Regions from separate parts of the Homo sapiens genome. Here regions 2 and 3 are each reported to be linked to region 1. The links are microRNA targets in miRTarBase. Many come from high-throughput screens and were not tested one by one. Region 1 holds a microRNA gene; each other region holds the end of a gene's coding sequence.

Region 1 (11,109 bases):
AGAATATGGAACCATTAATGCCATGCTTCAGGTAAACTTGTTACAAAATTTAGTCTTCGATAAATTAGTCTCTGCAAATGATTTACCATTGCTCTACATTAGTAAGCTGAATGTTTCACTAACAAATAAGAAAATAAAATATTTCATGTTTTTACAGCTAACAACTTAGTAATACCTACTCAGAGTACATACTTCTTTATGTACCCATATGAACATACAATGCTATGGAATGTAAAGAAGTATGTATTTTTGGTAGGCAATAAACCACCAAGGGAGAATTAAACTGAGCTAAAAGAAGCTCTTGCTTCTTTCTACGTGAATGACCGTCATATGGTAAATTAACCTAGTCATGAACAGATGACCTTTGGCAATACTAACACCAAAAAAAAAAGGTTATCTACTACTGATAGATAGAAACTATCCCTAAGGTTTTTATTTCATGAAGGAAAAGAAGATCCAGTGAAGTAGATTTCAATTATCATGAAACTCCTTTTAAATCATCTAAGTTTAAAACAGACATCTTACATTTTTAAATTAGGCACTCTCATTATTAAAATTTGACTGCAAAAGGGAAAATAGTATTACTAGCACAAAAGAATGAGGAATACACATGACCTATTTTCTGTCTCCACAATTTAATCTTAAGTATATCTCATTAGTAGGGCTCACTGATTTGTACAGAAAAATAAGATACTAAGAGCTGGCTTCATTCACATAATAAGCTATTTCTTCTCATTTTGATAAATGTATAATTAATATTAGAGGAATTTCTGACCAAAAGTTTTGTTGTTTTAAAAAGGCTTTCTTTTTTGACAGCTACAAACATAGTGGCCCTTGTCCTTCCTTCTCAAGTTTATCAGGGTCTTAACCCAAATCTCTACTTTAAATGTGAAGTTAAAACTTAAAATTAATTAAAATGTAAGATTTAAGCATGAAAAATGACAAAATTCTGGTCCACAGCTGTAAGTCAGCAGGGTATATTGGTAACAGACTACCAAATATTTAAAAGAAATTAATTTATCTGTATTATCTTCGAATTTGCTTTCTCCAAAGAGGGCATGTAAAATGAAAGCACTATAGTCAAGAACCAATTTATACAGATCGAAGAACTGTTTTTATTGTACTATGCAATTACAATTCAATTTCTCTAAACTTGATCAATCCATTGTTTAGAAATATCAAAATACTTTTATTTCACACAGTTTGTATATTATTTATAAAAAATTCCAAATAATGCTCTTAGCAAAATTTATAAGCAGTACCTGTTTTAAGCTACTAATGACAAAGTTAGAAAATAAGAGTAATATTCACATATTCTAACCATTTCTTACTAAAAGTATTATTTCAACTGAAATATTTACACATGTATAAAAGCATAATATTTTAAATTTTTTGTATCAGAAATTGAATGGAAATGACTAAGTTTAACTATAGTTCATTTTCTGTTTAATAAGACTAGTTAATACAAAGATGATTTTCATTTTATCAGATTATAAAGAATGAGAATGACTTACACATGGCATCATATGTGTTACTGCATGTTTACTGGAAATTATAAAAGGCACATAATTTTAAAATTCTACACTTTCAAAGAAATTAGTTCAAAGCTTAACTCACATAAGCATAGCCCTTCTGATCATCCACAAAACAGAATGGCAATGATTCATGTTCTATTTGGTAAGTTTACCTGTATAGGTCCTAAATACCAAGAACTCAAAATATATACCTCAAAAGTAGAGGTTCTTCTATAAAAATACTCAAAGCTTATTACTCTACTTGTGTTTTATAATAAACAGTTATATTGGTCATTCTATAGGTATACAAGTTGTTTAATAATCCTTCTCAAACATCCTAGCAACTAAGACTCTCTTTGCTATAATATTAAGACTATATAAATAATCCTTAGAAAATAAAATGACAGGCTATTCATTTTTAAAAGTAAAATTATATGCTGATTCTGGTGCTTGCGAGTTTAACTTATCTAAGAGTATTTTCAATCACTCTAAAATGTCACATCTATCACTTAGATCAGCTGTTCATTTTTAACTGAGTACATATTAAACTCTGGGCATCTGCTGACACTGGTATAACTCAAACATTTCAACTGTCTCCCTGACAGGGATAACAGATGCTGACATTATCAAATGCTGTACTATTTTTTTCCCATGGCCTCTCCTTGCCCCGATATGGCCAGTATATGAAACTGAACTGCCATCCAAAAACACACTTGAGCAACTGGATCTGCTAAACAGCTCCCATATAACTAGTAAAAATAGAAGCCAGTATTATTGCTATCTTCAGCACTTAAGTTTAGGCAGTTTAACACCTGTTTCACTTCTACTAGAAAAAATGATGAAAAAGAATTGTAGTTAATTTCACCAGCAGTATGATACTTACCAACCAACAGACGCAGAATATACTTAGTGTAAGAGTCATTTGCATACTGCCTGAATTAGCGTTGACCTCTCAGTTTAAAATAGTAACTGTAAAGAATATTTCTCTACTCTATATTTCTCTGAGAGCACTTAACTTTATAGGCAAATTATAATTTATCAAACTTTTATTTTATGCAAGAAGACACCCCTCTCAAGACATTGAAATCAACAGTAAAACCACATTATAACAAAAATTTACTCTGATTTTTCAAGTATTATCCACACAATAGATTTTAATACTTGTATCCATGGATTGTAACTAACCACCATGTATTACTAAGGCGATAATGAGAAGTAACTTGGCAATCTGTACCCAAAATGACAAAGAACTTAGTCAAGGAAATAGACCTTTAAAAGGGTTAAATTACTAAGCTATGATTAGTAACACCACGTAAGCAAAAACAAAGAAAAACTGGCATGCATGGTAGTTCCTTTCGACACAAGTCCAAGCAATACACTGAATACACATGTGATCTATTTATAAATCAAAGGGCAGAGGTACTTTCTTAAGGCCACTGATATTCCTACACCCATCAACAATTTGCTATTAGCCCTCAACTATAATGCTAAAAGAAGCAGTGGCAGTAGAAGGGGGTGACTAACTGAACTCTTCCCCAACCTTTTAGCTTAACTATTTATCTGGTTTGCTGCCTAGAGATAAATGGAAAACATTACTCTAAAATACATCAAGGTCTATTTGTTCCTTTAAATACTATTGGTTTTGAAATAGCTTATTGTCTACATGTAAGAATTAAGCAAAGACTTCGGCTGTGGACAAGATTAGAAAAAGAAAAAGAAGCAAAGATGTTGAAAACAAAGACGTACATTGATCATTCCTTAATGCAGTAATGTGTTAAAAGGAAAAGATTTTTAAACCATTAAGCGCAGGAAAACAGTAGGAAAGTGACTTCAAAATGGAAAATTTGACATTCAGTGACTGAAGCATTGGTATGATAATTTCTAACACTTGTAGAAGGTCCATGACTGTAATTTTACCAATGAAAAGCATTTAACTGTTTTGGATTCCAAACTAGCAGCACTACAATGCTTTGCTAGAGCTGGTAAAATGGAACCAAATCGCCTCTTCAATGGATTTGGTCCCCTTCAACCAGCTGTAGCTATGCATTGATTACTACGGGACAACCAACGTTTTCATTTGTGAATATCAATTACTTGCCAACTAATTTCAACTTATTTACATTATGCAGACTGTGATTATAATCAAATAACTTGTTACTGTTAATTCTACCTGGAAAAGCTAGAATGGTTAAAGATGTTTATAAAAAGCTTTATGAAAAATGTATGGATGACTTAAGGATTTCAAATAAAAATTTTACTTATTATGGTCTCTTGGTATTAAATTTCTTATCCTTCAGAAAAGAAAAGAACTGGTAATAAAATGTAGGCTATGCTTCATAATAACAACAACAACAAAAACTTCCTTCAAAGGAAGAAAATATCTGGAAAGGTCACCTAAAACCCACCTGAACACATAATGGGATTGTACAGTGTGGTTTACATGGATGTGTGCATATTTAAATTAAAGAAAACTGTAACATTATATAACACTCTAGAAATGTTTAGTCACTATCTTCCATAGTATTGGCCTTTAATTTTACCGCTATTTACCTGAATGTTAGCAGGTAAGGTGAAAAAGATGATAACTGTAGAATATCTTGTGGAGAGGCTTAAAACAGTTATCTAGTTCTTCTGACCCTGAATCAAAGGTTTTTAGTCTTCAAAAAAGAAAGAAAATGCTAAGCATCACTACTTTTACTCATGAAATATTTCACCTCTCCATATTTGTTTTCACAGCTGTAAAATGAAGAACTCTGCTAACAATAAATACTATGACTCTCCTCACTGTCTTCTTTGTCCCTTATAAAAAATATACACACAATATTCTCCTTCAGTGGGGATAAACTGAAGTAAAGAAAAAAAGTGACAATTACTCTAACATCCGTATAATTTTCTTAATGATTGCAATAAAACTATAGATAATTTAATATTATTTAATAGAGACAAACATTTCAGCAATTAATGAAGATTACTGAAGACAAGAGTAGTTTAAAGACCCAGATGTTCACACATTCTCAACTCCTGACCACTCCTCCATTTCAAAATGAACATCATTCTCTAAAAGACTGTGGGCAAAAGGAGACATATATAAATATATATCTTATCACTTCATTCAAGATCTTCTTCCTCCTATTAATTACACCTCAGTCACAGAAAGTACATTTGTGTATTACAAGGAATATGGTGTTTGAGAGTAGATGCATGAGCATACATTAGAGAAAACACACTCTAAGTATCCTATTACCGAATAGACTCAGCTATATTTTGTAGATAGCACTCAGCATGTTTACAGTTGTAAGGAAAGCATTAAACACCAAAATACAGTACAGCTTATCAAATCTTCAAATAGCCAACATAGTCTTGTTTACAGACCATATTTCAGAATTTAAAAAGTAAAAAAAGCATCACAACATTCGAGAAGGAAAACTATGAGTTGCTCACATATTCAGTAAGATTTGTAATATGTGTCTTTGTGGGAATTAGTAAGCAAATAAGAAACGCCTGTGAAATTATCTTAGTACCAACCTAAAAACAACATATATCACATCAGGTGATTCACTCATATTTTACGTTTACTTTTCACATTCAATTTCTATTCAAGAAAAATTCGTAAATACTATATAAACTTTATAATTATATTATTGTTACCTGTACTTCCAAAATACCTATCGATTGTTTTTGCCAGCTCTGCAGAGAATACTGCTGACTAATTTATTTTCATGCCTGTAAGGGAGCTCTAAAAACAGCTAAAAATGCAGCATCTTTACAGAAAGTACCTAAGTAACATGCTGATTATGCTACTCCAAAGAAATTCAGTTTTCACTTTTATCAGCAGAAATAATTTCTACTCTTACTTTAAATCCAAAATTTTACCTATATACTAAGAGATGATAAATATGGCTAAACTCTAGATGAAAACATGCCTATAAATATTAACTATCAGAACAGACAAACAGCATTGTTCTTAGTTAAGATTTCTCAAAAAAAACAAAACTGTATTAAAACATGGTGTAATTTCTACTTAAAATGCTCCAAACTTTATAAAGCACAACCAAAGTACTCAGGGTCTCATAGTGAAAATTTATATTCCCTTCCACAATTCTAAAAGACAACAATAAATGGCTTTGTAACTCTTTTCTCTTAATGTGTTTCAGTTACTATCATACTATGAGAAAACATCAAGATCAGCTTTGAAATCTAGACTCATATTGATCTGCACCTTTGAAATAGAGACTTCAAAGGACAGTCTTCAAAAATATAGGACATCTAGACACTTCATCAGGTTCTGGAAATAACAACGTGCTATATCTGGTTTTCTTTTCTTTTCTTTCTTTTTTTTTTTTTTTAGAGACAGGGTCTTGCTATGTTGCTCAGGCTGTAGTGCAGTGGCACGATCATACCTCACTGCAGTCTCAAACTCCTAGGCTCGAGCAATATTCTCGCCTCAGCCTCCCAAGTAGCTGAGACTAAAAGTCTGTGATGCCACACCCAGCTGATTCTTTTTTTTTTTTTTTTTGATACAGTCTTGATCTGTAACCCAGACTAGAGTGCAGTGGTGCAATCTCAGCTCACTACAACCTCTGCTTCCTGGGTTCAGGTGATTCTCATGTCTCAGCCTCCCGAGTAGCTGGAACTACAGGTGCGCACCACTACACCCAGCTGATTTTTGTATTTTTAGTAGAGACAGCATTTCACAATGTTGGCCAGGCTGGTCTCAAACTCCTAGCCTCAAGTGATCTGCCTGAGTTGGCCTCCCAAAGTGCTGGGATTATAGGCATGAGCCACCACGCCCAGCCTAATTTTTTAATTTTTTAGAGACAGGGTCTTGCTACATTGCCCAGGTTGATCTCAAGCTCCTGGCTTCAAGCAATCCTCCTGCCTCAGCCTCCTAAGTCGCTGGGATTACAAATGTAAATCACCACACCCTGCTGGTTTTCTATAGTATAAAGGCCAAAAAGACTGGTTGTTATTTTTAATTCCGAGTACACTAAAAATGGCACCTTCTGTCTTCTGACATCACTGGACAGTATAGGGGGGGAAAAATCAACCTTAAGAAAAAGAAATTTGATATGAAAAAAAGAATTCAAAACATCCCAATTTGCAATTACAACTGGTAATATAAGCTGTGTCATCTGATACTCTTCAGTGTCCAATTAAAATCACACTCTATCTGGCAATCTATAGTCACAACTACCTAAAAATGTCTTAAGGAAGTAGGAATAAAGAAGGCATGTAGCTTTAACTGAAGCACTACTTTGTTAAAGAATAAAAGCATTTTTTTTTAAATGTCACCTGACACCAAATATCTGGTTGGAAGAGGTGCTGTTTTAAATTTTCAGGGGAACCCTCAAGATTTATGCAAGAATTGAAAAAAATAAAAGTAAATTTTCTCTTCCTTGTATAGGCTTAGCATTATTGAATATACTATGCCTACTCTCAATAAAAATGAAACAACTCAAAATATTTAAAAGATACTTGTTTCCTAAGCACTTCAATTCTCAGTTTATACTAAACTTTATGATTTCATATTCCCTCAATAAATCCTAAATTCTCTCAATAAAATCTTTTTGACCATTGTAATCTGAAGTAATTGCTGTTTGAATTCCTAACACAGTTTCTCTACAGAATTCATTTTGTAATTGATCATATAACATCTTGTGATATTTAACAGTGTGCTCACTGTCAAAGTAAGACTAACATTTATTGAGTGCCTTGTATAGCCAGAGCATATGTAGGATGAACAGATGAATATGAATGCCCACAATGTAAAGAGAAAGACAGAAGTGCACATAGTAATAAACAGCACTAAGCAGAGTATATAGTAAGTATAATAAATAAGAACACAGAGGAAGGGCGCGGTGGCTCACGCCTGTAATCCCAGCACTTTGGGAGGCCGAGACAGGCGGATCACGAGGTCAGGAGATCGAGACCATCCTGGCTAACGTCGTGAAACCCCGTCTCTACTAAAAAATACAAAAAAAATTAGCCGGGCATGGTGGTGGGAGCCTGTAGTCCCAGCTACTCGGGAGGCTGAGGCAGGAGAATGGCGTGAACCCAGGAGGCAGAGCTTGCAGTGAGCCGAGATTGTGCCACTGCACTCCAGCCTGGGTGACAGAGCAAGACTCTGCCTCAAAAAAAAAAAAACAAAAAAAACAAAAAAAACACACACAGAACAAGGAAGTATAGAGCAAACAAAATAATTCCAGTGATGACACAGGAGGTAGCTCTGGAAGAAAGACGGTTAAGATAAAGAAGCGGGATGGGGCATCCCAAAGAAAGAAAATGCTCCAAAAAATAGAAGAAGAAAGCAGACAGCATATTTTAGGAAAGGAGAATAGACGATGGGCAAAGCGGGCTGAGGGATTGGATTAGCAGGAGATAAAGTTAAACAGACTCAGGACACACAGAATATGGGTCTGAATGCCAAGCCAAAGTGTGTAGATTGTATTCTATGTTAACAGACAAAAACTGAAGTTGGGAAACAGGGGAAGAGAGCCATTTAGACCTATGCTTTCAGAATGGATAATTTGTAAATGTATAAAATTTAAATCAAGAAAAAGACTGAAATCAAAGAAAAAAATTAGAAGAATAGTATAATAGTCTAGGTAAATGTGGTGAGTACTTAATTGGGTCAGCAACAGTGGGAACAGAATGGAATGGGTTGGAAGGATTGGTAGAATGAGTAAAATTTTAAAACTAGTTGGAAGCTAAGAATTGGTGAGAGAGCAAAGATAACTCTAAGCAATGAAGCAGCAAGAGGAATGAGGTATTGACACATTCACTGCCCATGTGTTTTGGTCTTGCTTCACAGACAGACCATAATACAGAAAAGGTGATGTAAAGTGGTTTAACAGTTATGATTCTAAAGTCACCTAGACCTTGCTCAAGTTACAGCTGCTTCAGTAATCAGCTACGTGTTCTTGAATAATTAAATTCATCTCTATAAGCCTCATATTCTTCACGTGTAAAATGAGGATATTAACACCTGCCCCAAAAAGCTGTTGAAAGGATTAAGTGAGATGATGCATGTGAAGCACTTTGCAGAGGCTGGCATGTGGAAAGTGCTATCATAATCTTCTGTTTGAAGGGCAGGGAAATATAATACTACTGTCTTCTTCACAATGCCAAAATCTGAAGTGTTCAAATATTTGCAATTTGGAAAAAAAATCAAGATGTGATCTAAAATATGATCATTCATTTTGTCCTACAATATATACCCACTGTTACAGTTACCAATAAGCAGTAGCAATAAAATCCTTTTGTTTCCTGTGGTCACCCTCTAGTGGTGATCCTAAGAAGCTAAAGGAAACATGATATAAAAATACAATAAGGAACCAAAGAATAAGTGTTCAGAATAGATAAAATTATCAAAATAAAAATCAAAGTGAAGATTTTTCTTAGTCCAGGTATACAGGTTTGACTCAAACATAAACAGAAGACATCCAATGCAGAATTTCCTAAAATGCTTAGGGTAAAGTTGTTCCAAAAAGTGAGTTAATGGAAATCTCTAAATTAAGCAAAGCTAAGCATTTTCCCATTCTGTGGGACACCGCAGATCCTTCATAAAGAATGTGATTCTCCAAAAGGAGTCTTTCTCAAATGTCAACCAGCAAATACTTTTTTCAGTAGAATACTATTGCTGTAACAATGGATGAGGGGATAGCTATACTAGAAGTTTATATAACTAATTACATTATTAATAAGGAATTAGGTAACTTAGTATTTATTTAGTCTTAAGTTTTAAAAAATAATTATCGTGCAAATGGCAACATGAAATTAGAGGACACCCAGATAATTATTTTGAAGAAACATAAATCTCAAAATAAAATGCATTTTAATTAAATCTTTAGAAAGAAACTAGTATTCCTGATATTTTACAACCACATTTAATATAAACTTAAATAATCATTTCATAATATTTGTATTAGATTAACAACCAAATAATCATCATATAAAACTAAAGGCATAATATTCACAAAACTTTAAAATGATTTAAAATACTAAAATAGCCAAAATTATTTCTTCATCAGTATCAGAAAAAGAGAATCAACAGTAGGAAAATATTTTTGAATTGCACCTAAAATAGTAAGGGGTGACATACCTGGGATTTCCCCTTAGTGCAGCATGATGCAGAGCATTAAATCCATTATTGTTTGTGATGGTAACATCTGCTCCAGCTTCCAAAAGAACTGCTAGGATATCATCACGTTTCTTACTTATTGCATCATGAAGAGGGGTATCACCTTCAGAATCCTTTAAGTTTAAAGAAATTTTCATTAGTTCTTCAATTAATTATCCCATCTAATAGTAATACTTACACCAAATGCTAAGCAAACAGAAGCAGAGACCACATCCAACAAATACCAATAAAAGAGCACTTTCTGTGATAACTACAAAAATATAGGCAAAGGCTGGGCATGCTGGCTCATGTCTGTAACCCTAGCACTTTGGGAGGCTGAGGCGGGAGGATCAGCAGAGGCCAGGAGTTCAACACCAACCTGGGCAACATATAGAGACCTTGTCCCTACAAAAAATTTTAAAAATTAGCCGGGCACGGCGGTGTGCACCTATAGTCCTAGGTACTCAGGAGGCTGAGGCAGAAGAATGGCTTGAGCCCAGGAGTTCAAGGCTCCAGTGAGCTATGATCATGCCACTGCACTCCAGCCAGGGTGACAGAGCGAGACTCTATCTCCAAAAATATAAAAAACAAAAATACAGGCAAGAAACACTGGCCACATTATAGTAAGGAAAGACATACTCAAATCTAGTTGGAAAACAAAATAAGCATGCTGGAATTTTTTTTTCTTTTTTTTGAGACCAAGTTTCGCTCTTTCACTCAGGCTGGAGTACAATAGCGCGATCTCAGCTCACTGCAACCTCCACTTTCCGGTTTCAAGCGATTCTCCTGCCTCAGCCTCCCAAGTAACTGGGATTACAGGCACCCACCACCATGCCCAGCTAATTTTTGTATTTTTAGTAGAGACGGGGTTTCACCACGTTGGCCAGGCTGGTCTCAGACTCCTGACCTCGTGATCTGCCCACCTCAGCCTCCCACAGTGCTGGGATTACAGGCGTGAGCCACCTTGCCCGGCAAAGTTCTTTTTTTGTAGAGATGGGGGTCTCAGTATGTTGCCCATGCTGGTCTTGAACTCCTGTGCTCAAGTGATCCTCCCACATGAGCCTCTCAAGGTGTTGGGATTACAGGCATAAGCCACCACTCCTGGCACATGCTGAAGCTTTACAAAGCAAAAAGAAAAGAAAAGAAGTAGCCTCAAATATAACTAATGACAAAAACCAGTGAAGTGATAAAGCTGCCCCCCAAATTTTATAAGTTTAAAATGGCCTTAATTGTCATACCCTGAAATTCCATACCAAACCTACACCATAACAATGAATTGAAAGTCGGTGGCTTTCAAACTTGGCTGCTCATTAGAACCTGCTGGGGAGATCTTTTAAAATCTGTTGTACAGAGGAAAAAAAAGAGAAAAAAAAATCTGATGTCCAGGCTGTTCACCATACTAAATCTCTAGAGGTGAGAGTGAGGCATGAGTAATTTTTCAAAGCTCCACAGATGAACATCTTGTGCAGTCACAGG
Region 2 (5,231 bases), not on the chromosome of region 1:
CTAAAAAGGAAACCCCTTTTTTTTTCTTCTGCAGTTGTTACCCAGAATTCTATCACCAGATGCTTAAGCAAACATTCTTGTGCTTTGCTGACAAAAATTTATTAATAATGATCCTGATTTTAGAATTCACAATCTCCTGCATTCAGCAGCTACTTATTAAATTACTATTCCTTAGTCCAGGTAAAAATTTCATGAAGAGGCCCCTAAAAAAAGTGTTTCATTTAAGTATAAAAAACTGTTTCTATATAACTGAACATCCCTGTACTTTCATAAAATATATATTTAAAACTTTTTTCAGAATTATATAGCTAGCTGTTTTTCAAATGACCCCACCACTTTATCCATCAATATGCTTCTCTCTTCTCTTCAGCTTAAATTACAAAAGGTATCATTTTAATTATTTTTGCCAGCACCAAATCCTCTTGGCCCTATTTCCTCTGTTTTGGAAACTTTCAATGCTTAATGATTCCAACTCTAAAAAACTGATTATAGTTCAAAGCATTTTTACCATGTAGGAACATACTTATTAAACTACTTTTCTACTGGTTTGAAACTCATCTATGTTCATCTTTCCTTTCCTGTTTAAATTGTTTGATATCTATTGATGGTCATTTAAAAACTTAACACTATTAATATGTACTTTTTTGATGTCTTTACTTATGGAATTATGGTACCTTTTGCCAATAATGAGAGGGTCTATACTAAAATATAAACTTTGCATTGAATTTATAATTCTGGTTTTTCTTCTAGGTCATCTAGGAGTACAAGTACATCTACTTCTCAGTCTTCAATTAAAGTACTGGAGCTTAAATTCCCGGCCTCCTCTTCACTAGTAGGCAGCCCTTCTAGGCCATCTAGTGCTAGTAGTAGCTCTAGTAATGTTAAGAGCAAAAAGAGCAGCAAATAAACATTTTAATCTCTTCTGAAAAAGTTGTAAACACAAAAACAAAAATATACTTTAAAATACAAAACGACCCAACACATTTTATCTAGTGGAAAGTGTAAAAACTTAGTGGTAAGTGTAAAAACTGATAGTTTTAAAAAAAAAGGAACGTTCTCATTTTCTCTACTGTTTTCTTCATACTGAAGAAATTAATAGCAGATTCTTGACAAGGCTACATGTTATACAAGCATAGGAAAAATGCTGTATTTCACTGTAATTCTGATGTTCGTAGTGTTAGAAAATAGTTTGCTTCATTATTTCACGAAACTACACTCACTTCTAATGTAACAATCTTTCAAGAAGAAATTTCTAAAGATTTACTGTACTATTATGAGCGTATTGCAATGTGAAAATCTCATTTACCCTACAAGACACCAAAATTAGGTTTTCTTTATTCAAAGTAACTATTTCTCAGACTTTTGGGGAGAAAAATTGTTAAAGGCAGTTTCTTCTTTTGCTATAATTTTTAACCAAAAAATAGCATCAACCCCTACCCACCCCACCCCCCCAAAAAAAAACCGGTAAGAGAAACACTGTATATCAATTTTAAAATGCAGCATAAATTTAGAAAAATCACTTCTGACCTTGAAATAAATCACTTCTGACCTTGAAATAAACGCATTAAAGATTTGCTTTCAGATACAGCCAACCAAGTATAAACAATTTTGAAATTTTCTTGATTTAATAAACGATTTAATGAAAGCTAGGTATGACTTGATTTGCAATAGAAATTTCATTTACAGTTGGAGGTAGACTGCCAAATGTAGTAGTTTTTCCAGTTAACACTTCATTATAACATGTGCCCAACACTTTGTACTCTTGGAATAGAGTGTGGAATATTATAAAACTGGATTTTAAATAAATGTATTAGAATTCACGAATGTACATGTGTCTCCTTCAAACCTTGGGAAAAAATGCTCATTACAACTGTCATTATTTTAGAACTGTTGTTTGTACTTCTTTCTGAAAAGCAGTAGTGGTAGTGAATAGTTCTCCTGATTATTTTTTGTTTTGTTTTAGAAATAGGAAAAAGGCATAGCAAAGTCAAGAATAAGGTGGGCGAAAAAAAAGGTAGGTAATAAAATTTTTGGCTAAAGTACTGCTCTAATGCATGAGATTTATAAGACCTAAAAACTAATTAAAGTCACTTTGCTCATCAAAGTTCTTATTCTCAGCCCTGTGCTAGTTTGGGAATTACTTAAAACTTGAAGTAATATTAAACACTCTTCTATGAAGGTAGAGGTTGTATCTTACTAGCTCTGTAACCTTGGATAGTTACTTCCCTGTTTTCCTCATTTGTACTATAGACACAGAAAGTTACCTACAAGTTTACCGAATTTGATAATATAAAAAAGATGCACAGGGCTTGACACACAGAAATTGCACTATATAACTTCTACTTACTGAGTTGCCACCTGGAGCTTAGCACAGAATTTGTGGAATGGTTTGGTTCTTGGGCCAGCATACGAATCTACATTTAATCCTTAAATAACAGTTCTAACAACTTCAGTGTAGTAATGACAAATGGTGCGACAGGGGATCAACCTATCTCCAAATCTGGACACTTATCCTCATATCCAAAAGTCATGCTTCATCTGCTTATGGAGACCAAGATATGGCAATATATGATCTTGAGAAAAATTACTGAAGATGTCGCTATTCTTGACAATGTAAATCCCCAATAATTTTTGCTGTGATGAACTTCCTTAGAAATTGGTTTGTATACTCTGCTTAATATGGCATAAACTGCAATTACTTTTGCGCCTACCTAATAAATTCAGGCAGCCTACAGGATAAGGTACTATTCTCTTACATTGAATGGGGTGTAATAGCCATTCTGACTGATGAGAGATATCTCATTTGGTTTTAATTTGCATTTCTCTAATTAGTGATGTTGAGTATTATTTCATACGCTTCTTGGCCATTTTTATCTCTTCTTTTGAAAAATACCTATTCATGTTTTCTGCTCACTTTTGGATAGGGTGATTTGGTTTGCTGAATTCCTTGTAAATTCTGGATGAGTCCCCTGCCTGATGCATAGTTTGCACATTTTGTCCCATTCTGCAGGTTGTCTGTTCACTGTGTTATTTCTTTTGCTGTGCAAGAACTTCGTAGCTTACTTAAGTCCCATTTTGTTTTTGTTGTGTTTAAGACACCAGTCTGGCTGTCACCCAAGTTGGAGTGCAGTGGCACAATCAGAGCTCACTGCAGCCTCGAACTCCTGGGCTCAAGCGATCCTCCCGCATAGCTGGGACTATAGGCATGCACCACCACACCCAACTTATTTGGATGGAGTCATGCTGCGTTGCCCAGGCCAGTCTCAAATTTCTAGCCTCAAGCAATCCTCCTCCCTCAGCCTCAAGTGCTGGGATTACAGGCATGAGTGACTGTACTCAGCCCCTCTTGCTTCCACTTTTGAGGTCTGAATCATGAATTCTGCCTACGCCAATGCTGGTAGGTTGGCAGGGGGGTAAGGGATGATAAATTATGAAATGGGTACAATGTACATCATTTGGGTGATGGTTACACTAGAAGCCCAGACTTCACCACTACACGATAGATCCATGTAACAAAAATGCATGTGTACCCCTTAAATTTATATGAATTAATTAAGGAAAAAAAAATTTTTTAAATGTTGTGTTTAAAATTTTAAGCTGAACTAGGGATTCCAAAAGGTCAAAGGCTATGTATGCCAAGAAGTAGTTTTCACTCTTTCTTTATAAACACGACTTTGTAAAGATGATACTGGAGCTATTAATACATAGAATTATTAAGGACTCTTTTTAAGATGAATTTCTTAAAGAAGCTTCTTCTTGGTGCAAAGACTAATGCTTTGAGTGACTAGCCGATTTCTATCACCATTATCTATTGCTCTTGACCAGGGTTTCTTTTCACTGTTCCATTTGCAAAAGAAATTTCAGATTTTTCACTAGGCTCTCATTACTGGAGTTTGATAGACACAGATAATACACACCCAGTACTTAAGGCCTGGACATTTTACTGTTGGCAAGAACTGCAAGACAGAACAAGGAATAAGTCTCTTCTTCCTCTATTATTCTCCCTCACTTAGACCTCTGTAGATCCTCAGCTACCCACCCACTTATCTAGTGTCATTGTGTGTGACAGTATCTAAAGTCCATTGTAATTTACAGCTTTGAGAATCTTAAACTGCAAACTCTAATGACATCATAAACCCAGTACCTATGACTCCTATCTCTATCTGTCTCCCAAAGAATATACCACACTATTTTCAGCAATTTGGGGAGGATCTTTATAATCCAAGTCTCTTTGTTCTTCAGCTCTAGCTGCTGGAATTTATTATTCTTAGTAAAACCAGGCTCTAGTTGGTCTAGTTATTTATTCAGACTCTGAGAAAGGGGTCATCAGAGAAGCATCAAGGCACAGGAGGTGGTAAGAAGAAATGCAGGTCAGATTTAACGACATGCCTAGTGCCTTCTGGACTGAACATCTGCTACACTAGGAGAGTCTCCCAATTTTCTTTCCCTAAAGAAAAGCCAGATTTACAATGTGCTTCTCTGCTACTGCTATGTTTTTGCTAAAAGGATTTTTTTCTTTTCTGATTTACCCTTGCGTGGAATACAGGCCCTAAGGGCCTTGTAAATATTTAAAGTTAAAAAGCTTTTTATGGCTATGCTAGCAATGAGGTAAAAAATAATGGAGAAATAAGCAAAATGGGCTCCTATTCAACTTTTATGATCTTATTCCTAAGGCACTTATGCTGGGTGGAAGCCAATGACTGTTCACAAACCACTTTTAATCAAATTGGGCTTTAGAGGAAAATTAAGACATATAATCTACCATTTAAAAATTTTAAAAAAAATTGGGCAAAAAATGTAATATTTAAACTGATAAATATAAAAGTGTTCAAGAAACATTCGAACATATAATCTTTCAAAAGCTGACGATTTTTAATTTAACAGAAAAGAAAATGAAATTAATTTTTATAAAAATGATCCAAGTGTTCAATGCACAAATTTTTCTCTCAAACAGCAGAATAAGATGCACCCAGGAATTCTCATATACCGCAATAGAATGAAGAAACAGTACTTTCAGAGAATTATCTTTAGGTGAAGAAATTCAAACTGTCAAGAGTAATATACTGTACATAAACATATACATAAAAAGTCTAAAAACCAAGCTGTGACAAGGGACCTAGAACTGAAACAAAATTTGAGAAAAACTTACTTAAAAGCATTTGTTTCCTGTAATCTCTACAAATAATTTTAGAAGCAGAGATTTCTGCACTCAACTGTTATGACTAATACAA
Region 3 (11,109 bases), not on the chromosome of region 1:
TGTTATCTACCCTCATGGGATTGTCATAAGGATTAGATGAGTTAATCAATGTGAAGCACATAGAACTGTGCCTGGCACATAGTAAGCATTCAAAAAAAGTTAGTTATTTTTAACATTACTGTTATTACCTCATAGTATTATTGTCTTAACCACAGTTATGACGATAAAGCACTTAATAAAGCTAATTCTGTCCCCTTTTTGATCTTTTATCTCTACAGTAAAAAGTGCAGGCTTTTCAAAAGCAATACATCCCAGACGCCAACCAAGTGGGCTTAGGACTCTCAAGTATAGGAAGACACATCATGTCTAAACTATGTCTAAAACCAGTTTTATTATACAAATCCCAAGCATGTTGTCTGGTATCAAAAAGTACTTAATATTTACTTAATGAAACATTCTCTTATACATTACCTATCACTGCAGACAGGTGATTTCATAGAAGAGGAAACATGTTCCCATGAAATACCTTAACTCCTGGCATTATGGATTAACTGAAATCCTAAGATTCACAGTATATTAAAATCATGGTGTAGGCCATATGAGATGCTGAATATAAAACTCTCTTAAATGGGGCTGGGTGCAGTGGTTCATGCCTCTAAGTCCAGCACTTTGGGAGGCCGAAGCAGGAGGATCAATTGAGGCCAGGAGTTCACGACCAGCCTGGCCAACATGGTGAAACCCCATCTCTACTAAAAATACAAAAATTAGCTGGGCATGGTGGCACACGCCTGTAATCTCAGCTATTTGGGAGGCTGAGGCACAAGAATTGCTTGAACCAAGGAGGTGGAGATTGCAGTGAGCCAAGATTGAGCCACTGCACTCCAGCCTGGAAGACAGACCAAGACTCTGTCTTAAACAAAACAAAACAACCCCTTTCTTAACCGGATGGTGTATTCTAGCCTCCTCAACAGGACCTATTGAGTAGACATGAAAGACGCAGGCAATAGACAAGTTTTTTTCATTAACTGCTTTGCTTTTGTAATTTATTTCCTTGTTTGAAGTTTCCAGTATTTGAGCTAATGGGCTTCTTCTATGTTAAGATGTGAGCTACTGATATATTGATAATGGTAAAAATGTCAGGTAAGAAAATTTATATACGTACCCTCTATAAAGATAATGGGGGTTTCAAGTAATATTTGCCTTCTCAAGTCACTGCTGTGTCACAGTTGAGGAGAAAGACAGCCTGCCTACACAGCAAAACTGAATAATCTGCACCAATATCTTCCAGGTTTTGATACTACTATCAATAATTACATACTTTGGAATGTAACATATTCAGATGTTTCAAAGTATTCATAATATCTAACTCTGGCTTATCCTGAACAAAAAAGCCTGCTTGCTTAGAAAGTAGAAAGACTGGCCCTGGGAAAAGCACCATTTAAGAGGAAGAAGACTAAAGACAGGGAAAGAGACTAGAAAATACGAAAAAAGATAAGACTGAAAATTATCAAGGAAGTCATAATGCTTGGAAAACTCCATTGCTTTCAATAGATGCATATTTAAATTGACATCTATTACCAAGACCTCAAATAGAGTGGGATGCAGATGATTCACTGGGCTAACAAAATCCAATTTCTTTCACAAGTCCCACCTTCCAGGTTAATCAGAATCCTAGGTTAATCAGAAAAGTAATACTCCAAAATCTCAAAAACCTACTGTTACTATAGGTATAACTGCTCTAAGCCAGGGGAGATCTAACCTAGGCAAATATTCTGGAACTTTATAGATGAGGATTATCTATTACTCAGAGGGTATATCATATAAAACTTCCTAATATCCAATTAGAAAGCAGCAACTTTAAAATACCTAGTGAAGAGAGTCCCTATTATAGAAAGCTAGTTACTCACTTGAACTTTGTCTATGTTGACAGCGCTCACAACAGATTCAAACTCCCTATACTGTATCAGCATGGCCTAGAAAACTTTGTCAAGATAGATCTAATTCAAAAGTCCCTATATCATTTCCAAATGGGAAGCAATTATTCTCTCTTCTTGCAAGGATTTTTTTTTGTTTTAGAGATAAGGTCTATGTTGCCCAGGCTGGTCCTTAAATTCCTGGCCTCAAGTGGGCCTCTCAGCTCAGTCTCCCAAGTAGCTGGGATTATAGGTGTCTGCTGTCACACCCGGCTTCCTGCAAGGATTTCTGTTTATGAACCCCCTAACATTTCCCATTTTTCCCACATCGAGTATAAGTAGGCTATCTGAACACTAAGAATGAACATTCACAAAGCAAACATGTTAATGGTCCAATATGTATTTAGAAGAATTATAGACAATAACAGAAATGGGAAGATAGGTCTAAAAAGAATTTGAAATCCTCAGATGTTTCATTATGTTTCAAAACATCCAGGAAAAAAGGAAGAAAAACTTGGCTTTTTACTGCTCTACATGGAACAGAGTAAGTTTAAAGAAGTTAAAATTAAGATACATTGCAAAGGGAAAAGGTAGGGGTTCTAATCCAGAAAAACAGTACTTTGGATATGAATCAAAATACTTCTTCATAATGAAATTAGTTTTTAATCCACTTGGGAAAAAATTCATTCTTGTCACCATTATGCAAACCAGTTCAAGTTAACTCAGAGGAATGGCAAAACTTACTTACAACTAAACTTTAAAATACCGGCACCATTAAGACAAGGACAAACAACAGGCCAATTCTAAATGCTTTTAAAGTAATGGGAATCATGAAGGAGCACAAAAAAATCATGAAGGAGCACAAAAAGAGTTATGATAAGAGGATCTAGAAAAAGTTGGCAAACTCTTTCAAGAAAACATGTATATGTGACAACATGAATTTAAAACTTCAACCAAACTATTATAAAGGCAAAATGTCATGAGTAACAACTTTAGGAGGTAATTCTTTCTTGGAGTTGGCAAATTTTTTCTAACAAGTACCAGACAGTAAATATTTTCAAGCTTTGTAGCCACGTGATCTTTGTCACAAGTACTCAACTTTGCCATTGTAGTAGAAAGAAGGCATAAACAATACCTAAACAAGTAAGTGTGGCCCTATTCCATTATAATTTTCTTTACACAAGCAAGTAGCCTCAGCATTTGGCCTGGAAACTACTGTTTGCTGAACCCTGATCTAATTCCGTAAGTCCTAAGGGTATATTTTGCTGAGGACATCTTCTCAAACCTAGGGATTTGCCCGACAATTGCTTGTTGCTTTTCTAAATCTGCTTAGCAACCAAAGTATTTCAATATTTTAAACTCTTTCACATATAACCTAAATAAAGAGCTCAATTTCCAAAGACTAAGTTCAATTAAGACTCATTTGTTATTCCTTGAACTAATAAGTACACAGATAAGGGGAAGGACATTTTAGGAAGAGAAAAAAATCATGCCTCTTGTACCTGAAAAAAAGAAAAACTTCCAGGATTCCAACTCTTCCTGATTAAATGCCTTTCACTATGATGAAGAAGACTTTTGTCTTTGTTCAGTTTCCTTTCCATTATCCATTGCTTTCATTTAAGTTAGACAGTCTGGTCAAACAAAATAAATACAGTTTTCACCAGTTAAAAGAAACCCAATTAATGTCAAGTAACAGCTAAAACTCTGGAAAAGTTACTTCTTGACCAAAGATTATTCAGCTATTAAGAATGACATTTACAGCCAGGTGTGGTCACACGCCTGTAGTCCCAGCTCCTCAGGAGGCTGAGGAAGGAGGACCACTTGAGCCCAGGAGTTTGAGACCAGCCTGGGCAACATAGTGAGACCCTGCCTTTAAGAAAAAAAAGAAAAAAATGAAGTTCCCTACTTCACTCTGCCACCAGACCAATTCCAACCAATACCAGATGTCAACTATGAAGTCGGGGGGAAAAAGTTTTTTCTATCTTCAAACCATCTTTGGAAAACCCTGTTTCACTGATGTAGAGGGAACTGGAAACATTTAAAAAATGACAAAAAATAAAATTTTCCTTAACTGCTCTCTTCATTCCCAAACTTTATCCTCTATGAACTAATTTACCTTTATGTATTTGAGATTAGATTTAACCCTCTATTATAATAAAAATGGCATGGGGTAGTTTGCAACTTGGATAAAATAAAATTCAACTTGGTTCAGAGGTAAATACGGTTCTGAGTAAAGAGAGAACAAGTCATTAGAAGGAGCCTTTCTGCCTAAGTACAGCATTAACTGTTCATGCCAATGCTATATTTTATACTGGTATTAGAGTTCAGACAGAATAAAGGAACATCTTAGTATGAAAATAGATTAATATACTTCCGTCTCTCTTCTTTGCTGAGAATACTGGATAGCTCCTTTGCTACTAAGTGCCACTCAATAAATGAAAACAGTCCCAGTGTTTGCAATTTCATGGCATTAAAGTACTTCATGATGATGTAGCTCTCATTGCTAATGCAGTTCCCTTCACAAGGTAACACGTGCAAGTTAAGATTTGGTAATTAATTTTCAGCATCAACCAAACAAAGTCCATTTAGTACATCCTTAAGAGGTATCCTCTGTGCATACACCAATAGCTGTTCATTAATGTAGATAGAACATCAGTAACTCCTATGACCAATGTGTTGTTAGCTAAGAACTAGGACAATGTCACAGTGTATGTGGGTAAGAGTCTTGGACAGTTATTTAGAATAACAACATCTCTTTTAACGAAAAAGCTGAAATTGTTTTCAGAAGTTTTAATTTGTTTAAAAGCTAGCCTGCCTTAAATTTTCATGAATTTTGTGGCTCTGGCTAGGCCAATTGAGAGAACCAGCAAACATGATTGTGCTAAAGTGGTCCTAGATGACCAGGAAGCACCCTATTCACAGTATCAATATAGGAAAAGGCTATTTAAAGTGAATGAAAAGAAAAGGGAGGGGAAACCCACCAAACATTCATAGCATTTCCACATGAATGAGATAGTCCCTACCTCATTTGTTTGTTGCTAACCCTGGAAGGAGAATTGACAAATGCTGCAAAGTTTCTCTTTACAGAAATTACTGCACTTCACCTTTAAAATTTGGTAATAGTTTAAAAAGCTCCATTTTCTCACATATAATCTAAGAAACTAACAAAGCAACAAAGAATTCTTTCTCCAGGCCAAGTTCACTGGCTCATGCCTGTAATCCTAGCACTTCGGGAGGTCAAGGTGGTAGGATTACTTGAGGCCAGGAGTTCAAGACCAACCTAGGCAAATTTTGTAGAGACACCGTCTCTACAAAAAAATTTAAAAATTAGCTAGACATGGTGGTGCATGCCTATAGTCCTAGCTACCTGGAGGCTGAGGCAGGTCAATCACTTGAGCCTAGGAGTTCAAGATTACAGTGAGCTATGATTGCACCACTGCACTCTGGTTTGGGTGACAAGAGGAAGACACAGTCTCTAAAAAATATAAAAAAGAAGAAAAAGAAAAACAGAACTTTCTAGCATACTATTTCTCAAAAGTAGGATGGACTTAAAAGTTTTTTGGTAGGCTTAAAGGCTCCATCCAAAGCAGCATAATCTGTACTTCTCACCTCACTGCCTATTTAGTAATGACAAAATCTGTCCACTGAAAACCTTATTACCAGTTGTTTCCCTAAGGATTTTTGGCTAATTCAACTTTACCTTTTCTATGCCACAGAGCACAGCCAGTCCCTAAAGATGGCTTTAGAAGACAGTTTTTTCCTTATCATGCTGTTGTCTAACTAAAGCGGAGGATGCACCAGTCTATGTCTTCTAAAGACAAAATACAGTTTCAATGCTGCCTTTAAGGGTAGGCTCTTATTAAATGGTAGCATCATTATCTTCCCATAAAAGATGCATTTCTATGCTTTTTCAGAAGATAAAATAACCTTTCTCTTGTGAGAGGGTGCAGCTTTATGTACATGTACAATTCTCAGATTGCTTAAGATCTACCCTTTGCATTCTAATTTCTTATCTCAAAGAGATTTCTTTCTTTTCTACCCACCTTTTCACATACCACAAAGCAATCTCAGGAAAGGAGCACATGACTAACATTCTCACAGATGGTTCACCAGTGCAGGTACAACCTGTCCCTCTGCCAAATCTCTTTTACAGTCATCTATGCCTCTGCACTGAAACAATTTCTTAAACCATTACATACTTAAAAGAACCCCAACAACTAGTGCTCCGTCAACAGAAGCTAGAGATTTTTCAACTTGCACTGTAAGTTATAAGCATCTATTTGCCGGCATCCCTTAATATTCCTCCTTCTCTCACTTCATGAAAGACGGGGTATCCAAAGCTCTACATGTTTGCTAAGTTCTTTCTCTCAGTGCTGGATTAAGAATCTTAGAAATACCCAGAATTACTAAAAGGGTCCCTTGAAGTTTTAAAAATCTTAGGAATGACTAAGTAACCAAACCTGACCAAAATTGATCCTTTGATCATTTATTGCAACATGATTCTGCATGATGTTTTCTGATAAGTGCCCTGTAGTATATTATTAAAAAGCAAAGCTCTTGGAGTCACCAGCTATGGTTTGCTGATGGTTGGTTTATGAATTACTAGGTTTGCAGACCCGAGACATAGTTTTAAGTGAGGTCCTTCTATATGCCTGAAAATATAAACTATTACATATGTATAAGGAAATGAAATTGTGGTTGCAGTAAGAACCATAGTGTTGAATTTCTTCAACCACAATACTGCAGAAAAAACATGTTTAAAACTTCATATAAAAGTTATCAAATATGGAGACCTGTGGATTTAAAAATACAATCCAGGCTCATTTCACTGGAAAGTGACATTTTTGATTACAATATTGCTGAACGTGAAAATAGGAGCCAAAGAGACTAGATGAAACTTTGGTAGTCAGCCTAACACATTAATTCACCTGAACTAGAGCCATTACCCAAGGATGTGTAGCACTATGGTTTACAAATACCAGTCAGGAAGTTGCAGAACGGCTCTGTGCTGTTTGATATTTGCAAAACATAAAAACACTTCCCTCCCTGCTCTCCTCTTCCTCAACACAACACTCAAGCCCCCCAAATGTAGCAGTACCTATTGCATACACTTTGCTGCTCATTTCACTCCCAGTTGCCAAGTGCTTCAGGTGATGTTGTCCACTAGAATACTGCTTCAAGATGGCTGATTATATGAAATAACCAGGCAAAGTATTAGATGCCTAGTCAGGGGAAAGATAAAGCCTAACCTTTCAAAATAAGAACCACCAGTATTCATTTTTTTCTTGAAACACAAAAATGCATGTTATGCCAGGGAAGGAAGAGGAGAAATTTCTCCTCCTCATCACCATCATGACTACCTCCTCTCTTGCGGTTGGCTGCTTCGGATGGTTGAGGCTCCTGCTGCATTTTTTAGATCCGGGCAATTATAGCCACCAAGATGATATGGACCAAAGTACAGTGTTCAAACATGACTGATAGATAAATGACCATTTATCATCATCGTTTTGTTAAAAAACCTTTTTTCTTATAAAGTTAACAAACCAAGGCTGTTGATCCCTGAATTAGAAAGTTGATTTGCTTGATTATTTTCCAAAGTGTGAGGCGGGCAATAAGAAGGGAGGAGCCTTTAGTGCTTTTGTGTAAGTTGCTGATCCTCCAGTTTGGCAACATCTTGGGAGCATCTTCTGGCCTAGTGATGTGGCATTTTGTGAATCTAAGTATCAGCCCATGGCTCTGATGCTGGCTGCTTATGGCTCATAGGGGAAGAGGGTCAGCCCCCTCCCCCTGGATGTTTCAGTCTGGCCCAGTGGTGGACACAGAGCCCTGGACAGCTTCCCCAGGAGCAACTGTCTCTTCCTGTGAAGGTGACTCTTCCTCAGCTTGTCCTCGAGATGTGACAGTTGTTTCAGGGGAGATGCTGTGAGGCCCCTCCAGGGGTATACAGCCAGGGTGGTTTTTGCGAAAGTGCTGATTCAAGATGGCCTGGAAGGGGAAACTTTTGCCACAGACATGACAGTGAAAGGGCTTGTTGCCTGTGTGCTTGCGGATATGATACTCCAGCTGATCTTTCCGGGTATACTTCTTGCCACACATGCGGCAGACGAATGGTGTGATCCCCATGTGTAGGCGCATGTGGCGGTCCAGGCTTCCCTTCTGGTTGAAAGATTTGGCGCAATAGATGCAGGTGAGACGAGGGTTGTACCGGAACCACCGCTCAGATACTTCCTGCTCTCGGAGATACTCCACATAGCCACTTACTCCCATCATTGCTGACTCTTCTACCTGTACCAGGTAAGGAAAATAACCAAGAAAGAACAAATATTATTAAGCATACATATTAAAAGCAATCAAATCTATTTTTACTTGTTACTAAGATATATGTACCTTTTTAGTGGCGGATCAAACAGAAAATTATTACCAAAAAGTAAAGATATTACCATAATAATTTTTAAAAAATTGAGACTACTCTATTCCATTACTATAAAAGAACAACACAGTAAAGTTACTTTCTGGCTGACAAACTGGATGCTTATTAAACCCCTGCTGAATGTACTATTTTACAGTAATGTGAGGAGAAACTGAGCCCACTTATACTATACCCTGGATCCTAATCTTACAATTATATTCTAGACAATCAAATACTTAGGCAGTGCTGGTCTAACAGAACTATCTGTTTTTGTTTTTGTTTTGAGACAGGGTCTCTCACTCAGGCTGGAGTGCAGTGGTGTGATCACGGCTCACTACAGCCTAGACCTCCTCAGGATCAGATGATCCTCCCACCTCAGCCTCCTGAGTAGCTGGGACCACCAGCACGCACCACCACTCCCAGATAATTTTTGTACTTTTTGCAGAGACGAGGCTTTGCCATGTTGCCCAGGCTGGTTCTGAATTCCTGGACTTTGGCAATCTACCCACCTCGATCTCCCAAAGTGCCAGGATTACACGTGTAAGCCACGACGCCCAGCCAGAACTATCAATGATGATGAAAATGCTCTACCCCATTCATTACAGTAGCCACTAGCCACCTGTTGCTATTGAGTATTTGTAATATGGCTAATACAACTGAGTAATTTTTACAATTTTAAGTGCTTTCAGTTAATTACAATTTAAATTTAAATAGCCACATGTGACAAGTGGCTAATGGCTACCATTTACTATATCAGATAGTATAGAATATATAATGGCAACATATTATAAATTGTGACATTATCATTAATACCACATTTTAATCTAGCAGTAGCTAGCTTTATAAAAATGTATACAATTTGTAGGTGACAATATTCCTTTTTATGTAAAATATTTCAGTATCATATGAACATATTATTTTCACTCTAAAGACTACTAAAGTTTAACTGACTTCAGAGTAAATTGTCTGAGGGCATGGGTTTCTTTTATCCGAAAACTGGGAGGCAGTATGAACATATTCCTTTCAATAAATTACTTAAAAATCTTGGATTTAAGGCCAGATGTGGTGGCTTATGCCTATAATCCCAGCACTTTGGGAGGCTGAGGTGGGAGAATAACTTGAGCCTAGGAGTTTGAGACCAGCCTGGGCAATATAGCAAGACCCCACCTGTACAAAAAATAACAATAAAAAATTAGCTGGGTGTGGAGGTGCGCACATGTAGTCCCAGCTCCTTGGGAAGGCTGAGGTGTGAGGATCATTTGAGCCTGGGAAGCCAAGGCTGCAATAAGCTGTCATCAGGCCACTGCACTCCAGGCTGGGTGACAAAGCAAGACCCCACCTCAAAAAAAAAAAAAAAATCTTTGGATTTAGAAATGCTTTTTGTTCAAAATTCTGTATTAAAAAAATCAATCAGAAATTATTTTTTTAACCTGAGTTAATAATGACTGACTTCTGAAGTCATTATATTAGAGGAATAAAAACCTTTTTAAATATGTAGGAGGGAATTATATGTTTAACAAAGAATAAAGTACCAATGCAAAGAGAAGAAAATGTCAAAGTTGACTCTGGAGTAACTGGAGCAAGATTCATCTAGTTAGCAATTAATATTGTGCCGGTACTTTTTCCCCTAAGATAGACACTATAGAAGATCTTGTGCCCTTTTAATTTCTAAAAATGTGTTTTGTCCCTTCCTATGCTGATGGTGCTATTCAGCCTTTCCAATAGAGGCAGTTCTCAACAGGTTTGGGAAGCAGTATGTAAAGTCAAGGGTTGAATACTAAGACTGAGGTTTTAAGATTATTTTATTTGTTTCATATTAATATTTCTTTCTGCTTCATTTCCCTGGATAAAAAAAACTGAGTTCACATAAAGAATGAGGAATCATCCCACTAAAGGTCTTGGGTGACCAGGGACAAAACAGAATAACTTCTCTAAGGCTGTCTTCTCATCCATAAGGTACAAAGGTTATCACATGATTTGCCAGCTTTAGAGGATTCTCACGAGAATTGAACATGATAACAGTACACTTTTCTTTTTTTTGAGACGGAGTTTCGCTCTTTTTGCCCAGGCTGGAGTGCAATCTCGGCTCATCACAACCTCCGCCTCCCGGGTTCAAGCAATTCTCCTGCCTCAGCCTCCTGAGTAGCCGGAATTACAGAACGCACCACCATGCCTGGCTAATTTTTTGTATTTTCAGTAGAGATGGCGTTTCTCTGTGTTGGTCAGGCTGATCTCGAACTCCCGACCTCAGGTGATCTGCCCGCCTTGGCCTCCCAAAGTGCTGGGATTACAGGCTTGAGCCACCAGGCCCAGCCAACAGTACTCTTTTTTCTAAATACAATGGTAACTTTTAGGACCTTCAATGGTCCCAAAATATTATGCGATGAATGCATAATATTACATAGCAATTAAAGATGCTGGAACCTGTGTTCAAATCTGAGTTCTATTTATTGTGTGACTTGGAGCAGGTTAGTTAACACTTCTATTCCTCAGTTTCCTCACCTGTAAAGTGAATATAGTAATAGCATTTGCCTCACTAGTTGCTTTGAGCATTGAATGAGTTAATACACTAAAGTACTGAATAAATGTTAGCTATTATTAAACATTACAAATTCATATTATTTATAATCTTGAGGGTAACAATACCCTAAGAAATCTCCCTAACTCTGAAAGGATTTCCTATTTAATAAATGGTGCTGGGAAAACTGGCTAGCCTTATGTAGAAAGCTGAAACTGGATCCCTTCCTTACACCTTATACAAAAATTAATTCAAGATGGATTAAAGACTTAAATGTTAGACCTAAAACCATAAAAACCCTAGAAGAAAACCTAGGCAATACCATTCAG

Evidence for each region. The annotated mature microRNA hsa-miR-133a-3p reads UUUGGUCCCCUUCAACCAGCUG and lies in region 1 at 3,529-3,550, shown strand. An mRNA with a match to its seed (bases 2 to 7 or 8) in the 3' UTR can be bound and repressed. Matches are read on the target gene's strand: a 7mer-m8 pairs with bases 2 to 8, a 7mer-A1 pairs with bases 2 to 7 and ends in A, and an 8mer does both.
Region 2: miRTarBase lists CCDC39 as a target of hsa-miR-133a-3p. The part of its 3' UTR that is shown has no 7-base or 8-base seed match.
Region 3: the mRNA of ZBTB37 is a reported target of hsa-miR-133a-3p. The part of its 3' UTR that is shown has no 7-base or 8-base seed match.

Annotation. Positions count from the first base shown.
Region 1 is chr18:21,818,153-21,829,261 of GRCh38, reverse strand. MIR133A1 (microRNA 133a-1) reads left to right here and starts at 3,477; the gene lies at 3,477-3,564. MIB1 (MIB E3 ubiquitin protein ligase 1) reads right to left here. Exons shown (of 21, transcript NM_020774.4): 12 at 9,616-9,767. It overlaps MIR133A1HG (MIR133A1 host gene), which reads left to right. Exons shown (of 3, transcript NR_110369.1): 3 at 1-3,783. It overlaps MIR1-2 (microRNA 1-2), which reads left to right and starts at 174; the gene lies at 174-258.
Region 2 is chr3:180,610,597-180,615,827 of GRCh38, reverse strand. CCDC39 (coiled-coil domain 39 molecular ruler complex subunit) reads left to right here. Exons shown (of 20, transcript NM_181426.2): 20 at 751-1,820. The coding sequence ends at 907. It overlaps TTC14 (tetratricopeptide repeat domain 14), which reads right to left. Exons shown (of 12, transcript NM_133462.4): 12 at 4,698-5,231. Among named protein-coding and RNA genes, the nearest start is that of TTC14, 11 kb to the right of the region's middle.
Region 3 is chr1:173,882,665-173,893,773 of GRCh38, reverse strand. ZBTB37 (zinc finger and BTB domain containing 37) reads right to left here. Exons shown (of 5, transcript NM_001122770.3): 5 at 1-8,138. The coding sequence ends at 7,650. Among named protein-coding and RNA genes, the nearest start is that of ZBTB37, 20 kb to the right of the region's middle.